Linked DNA regions of Homo sapiens: region 2 is reported to be linked to region 1. The links are microRNA targets in miRTarBase. Many come from high-throughput screens and were not tested one by one. Region 1 holds a microRNA gene; the other region holds the end of a gene's coding sequence.
The links. Region 1 holds the annotated microRNA hsa-miR-4796-3p (UAAAGUGGCAGAGUAUAGACAC, at 2,326-2,347, opposite strand). A microRNA usually pairs through its seed, bases 2 to 8, with sites in the 3' UTR of a target mRNA and lowers its output. Matches are read on the target gene's strand: a 7mer-m8 pairs with bases 2 to 8, a 7mer-A1 pairs with bases 2 to 7 and ends in A, and an 8mer does both.

Region 2: miRTarBase lists KLF6 as a target of hsa-miR-4796-3p. Seed matches in the 3' UTR shown: 7mer-A1 at 3,003-3,009.

The regions. Positions count from the first base shown.
Region 1 is chr3:114,741,127-114,746,399 of GRCh38, forward strand. It overlaps MIR4796 (microRNA 4796), which reads right to left and starts at 2,399; the gene lies at 2,319-2,399. The region is part of intron 5 of ZBTB20 (zinc finger and BTB domain containing 20); the gene reads right to left.
Region 2 is chr10:3,775,095-3,780,094 of GRCh38, forward strand. It overlaps KLF6 (KLF transcription factor 6), which reads right to left. Exons shown (of 4, transcript NM_001300.6): 4 at 902-4,496. The coding sequence ends at 4,445. Among named protein-coding and RNA genes, the nearest start is that of KLF6, 7.6 kb to the right of the region's middle.

The sequences.
Region 1 (5,273 bases):
CTTTTCCTGTCAAAACACAGTGAAAAAGCTTAATGGAAAAAAATGTCCTTCCTATCTCCATGCCAGGCACAGTGTAAGATCCACAAACTTAAAAGCCAGGAAAATATTCTTTTATGTGCCCCAAAGCTGGGCAAGTGACCTAGTACTACAAAAATTCCCAAATAGGCATGTGACCTGACTAATGTGTGCTGTGAGATGAGTCAAGAAAAATGGAACCATCTGTACTTTTATTGGACAGTCAAATAATTTCTTTCTGTCCACCCAAAAACATAATTTCTATGTTAAGAGTGATACAAGGAGACTTTTAGAAAGTCTAATTTTTAAAATCAGAGATATTAAAATATATGAAAAGTATAACCTATTAAACACTGGTGGAGATAAGCAAATAGGCTTATGAAATCATTATTGCTTTAAAAATTTGTTACCTACTCATTGTGTACTAAGGCTTCTCTACGACATACAGAAGAGGCCGGTGCGGTGGCTCACGCCTGTAATCCCAGCATTTCGAGAGGCTGAGGCAGGTGGATCATGAGGTCAGGAGTTCAAGACCAGCCTGGCCAAGATGGGGAAACCCCGTCTCTACTGAAAATACAAAAAAAAAAAAAATTAGCTGGGCATGGTGGTGGGCACCTGTAATCCCAGCTACTCTGGAGGCTGAGGCAGAGAACTGCTTGAACCTTGGAGGCGGAGGTTGCAGCAAGCCAAGATTGCCCCACTGCACTCCAGCCTGGGTGACAGAGCAAGACTGTAAAAAAAAAAAAAAAGAAAAGAAAAAAAGACATACAGAAGGAAATCAGGGAAAATGGGAAAATGAAGGGAATTAACAAATTGCAATAATCTTTAAGAAGTAGAGTATGAACAATTTTCCTTTTCTAGGATGAAAGCTACCAACAACTGAACTCTTAGAGTGAGTGATGGCAGAAAAAAATAGCAATCAAGAATAGGGGCATGTTAGTTTTTAGACATGTTTACAAAACTCTGCCTTTTATTTCTTAAACCCATAGGTCAACCACCCATCATACCTACATTACCCCATATGACAAGTGGATTTGTTGTATGTTTCAAGTTTTTAATCTTGGTGGGAAGGGGGAGGGCAGAGAAGTATTTATTGGTAAAATATCATAATAAAGGTTGAGCCTGTCAATGATTGTACCTAACAATAATAAATATGTGTAGGAAGTAAGAACGGCAAAAATGAAGCCGGGTAGGATACTGTGGATATGGTGACAGACAAGTATCTATACGAAATCCTGAGATATTTGTCCTCCATTTCATAAATTAAAGTGCCCCCTCTTTTGCTTTACAGATAAGGAAACTGAGGTGCATTATAATAGCAACAGCAGCTGATGTGTAGTAGATCCATACCACAAGCCAGGTACGATGTCAAACATTTAAATGTATCATTTAATTTAATTTTCATAGATCTCCTACAAGACAAGTGCTATTATTTTCATTTTACATACGAGAAAACTAAAGCTGACAGAGATTAAATAACTTGTCCAAGGTTGCATAGTAACTAAGTGAAAGAGCCAAGATATGAACTCAGATCTGTCTGATTTCAAAACCCAGGCCCTTAAACACTAGGCCAGTGGTTTTTTAACCCTGATTGCACATTAGAAGCACCTGGCAAGCTTTTAAAACCTACTGATACTCAGACCCTACCCCAGAACAATTAAATCAGAATTTCTTGTACCTGGGCCCTGATGTGGGTGTTTGTTTCAAAGCCTTTCTGGGTGACTGTAACATATAGCTTGGGTAAAGAAGAATTGTTGGGTGTCTCCCATGGAGGTCAGTATATCTGTGCCAATATGTGAGGTAGTACAAGACTCAAGTGTCCTCAGTCTGTCTGCAGTGGTTTTTCCCTTGCCCCATCATGTTCACTTTGACATCTTTTTTTTATTATGATTTTTGGAGAAGTAATATACAAGTGACAATTTTTTTACAAAGCATTGTCACAGCAGAACATGGTCATAAGTCCATCAAAGAGAAACCTGTTCATATCTATGTACAGGCTATGATGAATGAATACAAAGAAGACTATGTTTATTACTCTCATCCCCAAAGGGAAGTATAAAGCTGGCCTTAAAAGCTGTTCATACCAAAGCTAATCACTAAAATTTGGAATGGCTTCCTCCTCTCCTTTCACAAATGCAATAGGGTAGCCACTGGATCTAAGGGGAAAAGATCCAATTACCACTCTTTACAATGCTTTTTCACTTAGGATCTCAAGACGACTGACAGTCATTCAAAACATAAAAGTAAAGTGAAAATATCTCTAGTAGAAGTGAAAAGAAAATGTCTGTAGTAGGAAGAAGGCCTAAATTTGTGTCTATACTCTGCCACTTTACTGCAATGACTTGAGGCCAAAAGTAAAGTGACAGAGTATAGACACAAATTTACTGCCATGACTTGAGCCTTGATTTCCTTTTCTATATGTACTTAAGCCATATCATCCTTAGGGCAGTGATCCAAAAAATGTGGTCCCCATCAGCATCATGTGGAAACATATCAGAAGTGAAATTATCAGTCCCTACCCTAGACTCTGAATCAGAAACTTGGTGAAGGGGCAGTAATCTGTGTCTTACCAAACATTGCAAATAATTCTGACCACCTCCAGCTGACTCTGATGTATCCACCTCCATGGGGTTGTTGTCTAAGAATAAAAGGAGATGGTCCATAAAATTGTTATTTTTTTTACTATCTACTGAAATCAGAAATTTCAAAATTCTCTCACAGAGATATTTTAGAGAAATAATGTTACAGCCTACATTAGTTAGATAATAACCTCATTTCTGAATTTCACTTTGAATGTGTAGACGAGGCACAAGTCAACCAGAGGTTATGCAATTAGCTTGGAGTCAAAGAGAAAGCAAGGAGTAGAGCTGAGAAGGAAACCCCAGTGTGAACTTGATTTTTATTCAATCAAACTGTTAAGGTACCAACCACGCACTTTCATCTATAATCACAATGAACCTTTTAATAAACATGTTTCTATCCTCTTAGCTTAAAAAATATAACAGTAGCTTTTTGGATTTTAAAACAGATTGACTTCTATACTTCTGGGCTAAAGGCAGCTCAAGAGTCAATAAGAATCACAAGCTTTCCACAGTGAGAAGAAAGTGCAATTGCCCAGTCCTCTCTATCTATGAAGTGCAGACAGTATTCCTCTTCCTCACCTCACACTTTCGATTATTGCAATGGTGGAAACCATGATAAATAAAAGCGCTTATCTAGTGGTTTGGTTTTCACTAAAATTACAGACTTCTGTAACATTATTTGGATACCATAAAACACAAACCAAATTTTAGGAGATGCTTTAGGGTGTTTTTTCCCCTGCCCTCCTGTCGGAAGCCCTCTATCTTTTTACTGTAATTTATCTGATATAGCTACCAAGATGCTTGATACTTTTACATGCAAGGGTGCTGAAAAACAAAGAGCGAGGGAATGGGTTGTTAATGAAATTCTCTGATTGTAAAAAGCACTCTGGAATGATCAGGTGGTAAATAATAATAAGAGGAAATAACATAAAGTGCTTAGGTGCTACAGCGATAGTCACCATATAAATGCAGAAGAGATCAGACATGAATAGAATTTGCATTTTATGCAGCTGCTGTGTGTGTATATAGAATATACAGTAGCTAATTTTTCAATAATGCTGGTAAAATATTGTTCAAAATCTATTCTTGCTGTCTTCTCACTTTAAAAGGCATTATATAGAAAAACACCCATCTGTCCTAGTGCAATGGTGAATGTGTGCAAAGAGCCTAGAAAAAGAGCCTCTTTGCATACGTGAAAAAAAAGAACTCAAATAAAAGGAGATAATGAAGAAGAGACAATAGTAACACTATTAGAACAGCTATGCAGACAAGCACAAAGGTGATCTTTGAAAAACATCAGGGATAAATAACTCTGTTAATGTGTGGCAGAGAAACTACAGTTAAGACATACAGTAATATACCAAAAATATAGACATGCTTTTATTTTGTCTACTGGGCTATTGTGATAGTGATGGTTGTTTTTGAATAGAAAGGAAGAAGAGAGTGGGAAGTAGGATTTCGTTGTTTGTTGTTACTGTTGCTGCTCAGTTTAGAACAACAACATCAACTACACACCAGACCCGTCCAACAGTTCCACAAACAATGCTTACCATGAATCTGCCCTCAATTTTCTTGTTGTTATTTTCCCTTAATACTTATTGATAACCCAATGCCCATTCATTAGATATGCTAAATCCTCGTCCATGGTTACTCTCCTTTGGAAGAGACTGAGAAGATGCTAAGAGGGAGTTCCTCTTACACATAAGGGAAGAGTCTGTTTAGGAATCTGAGAAAGCAGAGGCCAGGATAAAGAGACCACTAGTCAATCAATACTAAGCACCGAAGACTGAATCACCCAAAGATACAATTATCTCCCTTCCTTTGTTCTGTCTCTTAGTCAAATAAAGGATTGTTTGTAGAACCTTTTCTGTTCCTGATCTCTAAAAAGCAGGACTGGACTTGCACATCCAACTATAATTCAAAATATCTCACACTTCCAACTTGAAAGAAGACATAAACTGTTTCAAAGAAACTCAGAGAGAGCAAATGCATATTCACAAAACTTACACTTATTCCTAGAATAGGAAAATGGAGAGAGAACTAACCACATAAGAAAGGGCTAATCATAATAATAATAGTAATAATGATGATATCAATCAATACTTTGGATTCTAGAGAATGATTTATCACAAAAATTCACCTGTATTAAGGGAGACTCCAGGACAAGGAGGTCATTAAGCTACATTTCCATCTTCAGGATTCAGCCAAACTCAGACTCTCCGGAAAGCTGTAAATGCTCTCAGAACAGACTTTAGTAATGAGATTGGAATGAACACTGGGCCTATGGCGTAAAAGCATCTCCCTGCCCCTTGTTCTAAAAGTTAACTATTAAACCATGTGCGGTTCATCCTGATTTGGTTTACTCAATTCTAGAAACAAGGACATGCTGATCAGATTGCCCTGGGCAATTGAATACCTACTGAAGCCTTTGGGAAGACAGTGTTCTTCCCACCACCCCTACTTAAAAGGCTTCTGTTACCAGACTATCAATTCTGTGTTACTGGTGAAGGATAGAAAGTATCTTCTTTTGAAGGACAAGTTTTTCACTCACTGAGTTTTCTGCTTTGGGTATATACTCAACATGTTAAGTGCTTAATCTTTTTTCCCCCATTCCCCTTTTTCTACTGTAGTGTGTTTTGTTTGTTTGTTTTTTGTTTTTGTTTTTTTTTAATTATT
Region 2 (5,000 bases), not on the chromosome of region 1:
ATTGTAGTGCTATCGAGAATGCTGGATCCACGTGACCTAGCCCTATTTTAGCAATAAGCAAACTGAGGGTCGGTGTAGCTCAGCAAATTGTCCAAAGCACACAGCTCGTTCAAGCTAGAACATTTCCTTTCTTCTTTTAGCTAGGTTTCAAAAAATTTGTTAAGCAGACTGAAATTTTTTATACTTCTATAAATACCCTAAGGTTGCAGCCGATTCCTTGCACGGCAGCGCTAACAGCCTTATTTGAACATAACTTAGCTGTCCTGCATAGTCTTTCCATGACAAAGTGGTCAAGTCTTAATAGTAGCCGCGAATGACTATCAAGACTTTAAATTTAGACTGTACATTCGGGGCAATCCAACCATGAGTCATGTTGACATGTGCTTGGGGATAGAACACGCCCACGAATCCCGGCAATAATGTCGTCTGCTCCCCACGTCCTGCCCTACCACAGCTCCCTCCAAACTGCTGACATTTTTACCACAGTTATAGAAAGAAAATTAATGAACATTCCTAGTCTGGGCACACATCTTAACATCCATCCCCTCTCCAATTATAAAATTAAAAGCAACCACTGTAAATTCCCCACGTTTAGCAAAATGAAGAGCTATGGAGAGGAGTGAGCGCTTAAGCCACCTCAAGTAGAATATCCTTGTTGTCACACTAAGAAGCTGGTTCCCACGGAAACACATTGATTTACCCCATTGCTACTGATTGGCTTAGTGTAATCTGAAAATGGACTCCTACAAGGATCAAATTGTCCTGGTCCACACAGTAAAGCAAAGCTGAGATTACTTGCTAAACATTGCTCTAAAAAACAAAAGGCTGCCTATTTTCAAACAAACTCTACATTTAATGTATCTTATTGGCCTTAAAAGAAAAAAAAGAGATGTAACTCCTCTGGCAGTGATGTCATCTTTTATTTTCTGCCCTCCTTGACTGAGAGTGGGCTGAGGTTGTGAGAACAGCCCTCTGGCCTGGAGTCCCTCTGCCTCCTCCACCCCTCCCAGACATGCCTCAGCCAGGTGTGTGGCAGGGCTGGCTGGGGAAGGTAGGCCCAGCTCTAGCTGCGGAACTGGAGCAGGCTGTGGAGGCACAGAAGTGGCAGGGAAACACTCAAGTTTGTCGTTGTGCAGGTGCCTCTGCAATGCATTCCCTGGCTTGAGCAATGGAAGATCAAACCGGCATGGTTCCCTACTGTGCCCACAGCCGGGGGGTTGTTTTTGTCAGTCCTTGGAGAAGAGTATTTGATGCATTCAGGGAGGGCAATGTCAGGCTCGCTGACATCCTCTCCAGCTCCCAGGACAGGCTGTGGAAAGAGGAAGGGGCTGAGGTCGGTGAGTTGTTCTCAGGGTTGCTCAATGAAGATTTGCCCCCAGGAGGAAGCCAGGGTGATGAATGCAGGAGGAATCTGTTCCAACAACCCCCTTCCCCCAAAAAAAACAACCAGACTCAAGATGCTGATAAGAATTCTTTTATGTTATTCCAATAAAAAATACATTCATACAGAAATATAACAATCTTGCAAAAAACAATTTCAAATAAAATCTTGTAAAACAAAATTTTACAAAAATCTTACAAAGATTCTTTAGATAACAGGGTGCTTCCAAAAAAAAAAAAAAAAGAAATTTCACTAATAGAAATTTTTTTTTAATTTCAAGCAAAAAGTTTCTGCTTGATTGAGGCTCAGTTATCACCTGAACAGAATGTACTTCTTTATGTACGTGCTAATTATGAAAATCACAGGCATTGACAGGTACGGTACCCAGCCCCACCCAGGCAAACAGCTCCGACATGTTTCGTAAGTGAGACAAGCCAGTGCAAGTTTTTTTTTTTCCTTTTTTTTTTTTTGTCTTTTGCTTACCTTCTTGCTTAATGGAATTGTTATGGCTAAGCACATAGAAGGCCAAAAAAGGAGTTTTCCAAACCCAGCAAATCAAGTGCTTGGATTCTGAACTGCCAAAAGAAAACTGCACTTCCCCTCTTAAGTAAAACGAAATGAGTTTCTTAGGTAAATGTATTCATCAGCCCAGATAAAAAAAAAACCAGTTATGTGAGCGTTAGTCACTGCTCATTTCCAGGAAGATCAAACAAAATACCAGCCCAGCCAGACTCACATGTGTGTATATATATATAAAGCAAAGAGCCACACCCACAAGCCAGCAGCTGGGTGAAATATCAGCTGTCCACGCCGTGGTATGCCAATTCGGGGAAATTACTCCTTGGAAAAACTGGAAGAATCTACTTGCTGGAAAAAATAGCTTCATCTGCATAAAAAGTGTTCTACAAAAGAATCCCTGTGGTTAGCTTACTCTTAGGTTAGATCTTCTAATAAGGCTGAAATTCAAAATCAAAACCTTAGTGTGTCCGAGTCCAGCCTGGGTTCCAGCATTCTGTTCAGGCCACTTCTGAACGGCCGAAGGTGCCCCATTCCAGACCTGCCCATTTGATGGACAGAGCAGACAGCCCGGAACAGATTCAAGCAAGAAAGTCCTCCGCACATCGTTAAATTAAAGATAAAGCCTCTATAAAAGTTAGGTTATGGTTTTCATTTTTACCTCCTTTATGGCCATTTTGAAATATTTCTTCACAGGCTGTGGAATTTTCTAGCTAAACATTCTAGTTTCTCCTTAAAAAAAATATTTATATATTATCTATATATATAATATATATATATACACACATACACATACTGTACACACAAATATACATACACAAGAATTCTGCCCACTTTTTTAAAAAAGTAGTATACTTTCTGTATTACCAACAGATAGCTAGACAGATATGTGAAACTTGTGCCTTTTAAGCAAATACATTAACATTGGGGGTTTTTTAATACTTCTGTATCTTTAATATGTGTGAAAATGTTACATATTAAATACAGCCGGTGTGTGATCTATACAATTGTTGTGCAAGGTCTATATGAAAGTCTCAAGGTGGCAGAATTGGTCAGATTTTTCCATTTTCCTGTTTTCCATTTTAACACTGACAGTCAAGTTGCCTAAAGTGTTGAACAAATACTGACATGTAAAGGGAGTTTCACTCTATGTCTTTGTGAAGGAGGACCTTAAAGAGATTTTTTTTCTGTATTATACGTTGATACAGTACACTGCCAGGTGAAACAAGAGCCTTAATAAAGCATGCATCGCCCACACCCCTGTATGAGACCCCCACAGAAGGGATCGCTTGCGTAAGGCACCATTATGAAGGTCAACAGTGCATTAACAGCTAGAAAACCAGAAATTAGTCCTCAAGGCATAAATAAGAGAAACATAGCTGCATGAGAAAACAGTTTCTAAGCGTTAGTGGTTTTATCCACCCAACTGAGAAAAATTTTAGGTTCTTAAGTCTAATGAAACATTAGACCAGCAATTCCCAGCCCCAGCTTTGTGACACTCAATACGTGTCCAATTTCTTCTAAGGGCATCACAGAATTCTCCAAAAAGTTAATTCAAATTCAGAATCATTTAAAAATAATCCTGTGTTGCACAATGCCTTTCTGGAAGGGGAGTGTTACAAACTTGGAGGGGAAAAAAAATTGTATATTGCCAGGCCCGGATGGCTAGGGGGTCACTGTATTAGACAGATTGGATCTTAGCTGCTCATTAACTGGAATCAGTATTGCAGTCCTGACTTAAAAATGGAAAAGCATATAGTTCCCCAGACCATGCATGACTTTTTGTATTCTAAGGAAAAGTTAAATTGTTGTGTTATATTTGTAAATACACAGCTTATACAATGGGTTACAAATGAGCTATGTTGTAGCGTGTAAAACAAGCTACTTGACACATTGCACATTTAATAGCTGCACCAGACACTAAGAGTTCCTCTCACACAGAAAAGGGGGAGAGAGGCTCTCCCTCCCCACACCACTCGCCACTCTGGGGTCCTGAGTTCCCACGCCCACCCTCCAAGATTTTCCTTCTTTTTTTGTTTTTGTTTTTTTGTTTTTTTGATTTTTCTTTTTTTTTCTAAGGTGCAGACACCCCCTCCCCCCAAGGAAATGATTGGTGGTCATCTCATCTCATGGTATACTCCTTACACACAAAACATTCAAACTACTTTTTTTCCATCTCTTGCAGTCTTGCTAACCACAAGGAAAAAAAGTTGGCCTCATCATACGGTCAGTAATAGATCCTCAACATACAATCAACCCAACCATTAGCATTCTCAGTGTGCATGCTCACGGCAAAGGCTTAGGCGCCGCTCGGAAGGGCGGGTACCAGTGGCGAGTCCAGGGTCACCCACATACCATGCACCACGGGTGCTATGCCGCTTCTTACAGGACCTTTTTAGCCCTCAAAAGACCTTCCAAGGAGAGGCCCTGGAGGCAACTGGGTAGGGTGCAGAACGGCATGCTTTGGCTGGAACACGCATCCCTCCTTCCACGGCCGGCTCTCAGCCTGGAAGCCTTTTAGCCTACAGGATCCACCTCTCTGCTCCCTCAGAGGTGCCTCTTCATGTGCAGGGCCAGGTGGTCAGACCTGGAAAAACACCTGCAAGGGCAAATCAGAAGCACAGAAGAAGTTAGGTTCCCATCCCTTGCCAGTGTTCTGGACCAGCGCCCTCACCTCCCTGCCCTGCCCAGCCTAACCCCCTGCAGGGAAAGGTGGGATTCTCCTCCCAAGCCTCATCAGTGTCTTCAGGGACAGGAGATACCAACTGATAGGAATGTGAATTAAGAATGTCCCCCACCAGTGGCTGGAGGTTCTTTGGAGAATCTGAACGGACTTCATTTCTAATTCTTCAAATATGAAAACTGTTGAAAGGCCAATCTCCAAACATATCAATAAACTGACTCCAATGTCAGGTGTATGTGGAACAGTTCTTCCTAACCATGGACAATGAGCACACCAGAAACTTTCTAAAAAGTCCCAGGCTTGAAAAGAAATGTTCACACATAGGAAACTGCATGCCTTCCTTCGAATGTGCCCTGCACACCTACTCAACCCTGGTCATCACATTCCCAAGGCCCCACGCTCCTTGCCCAGCATTGTCCT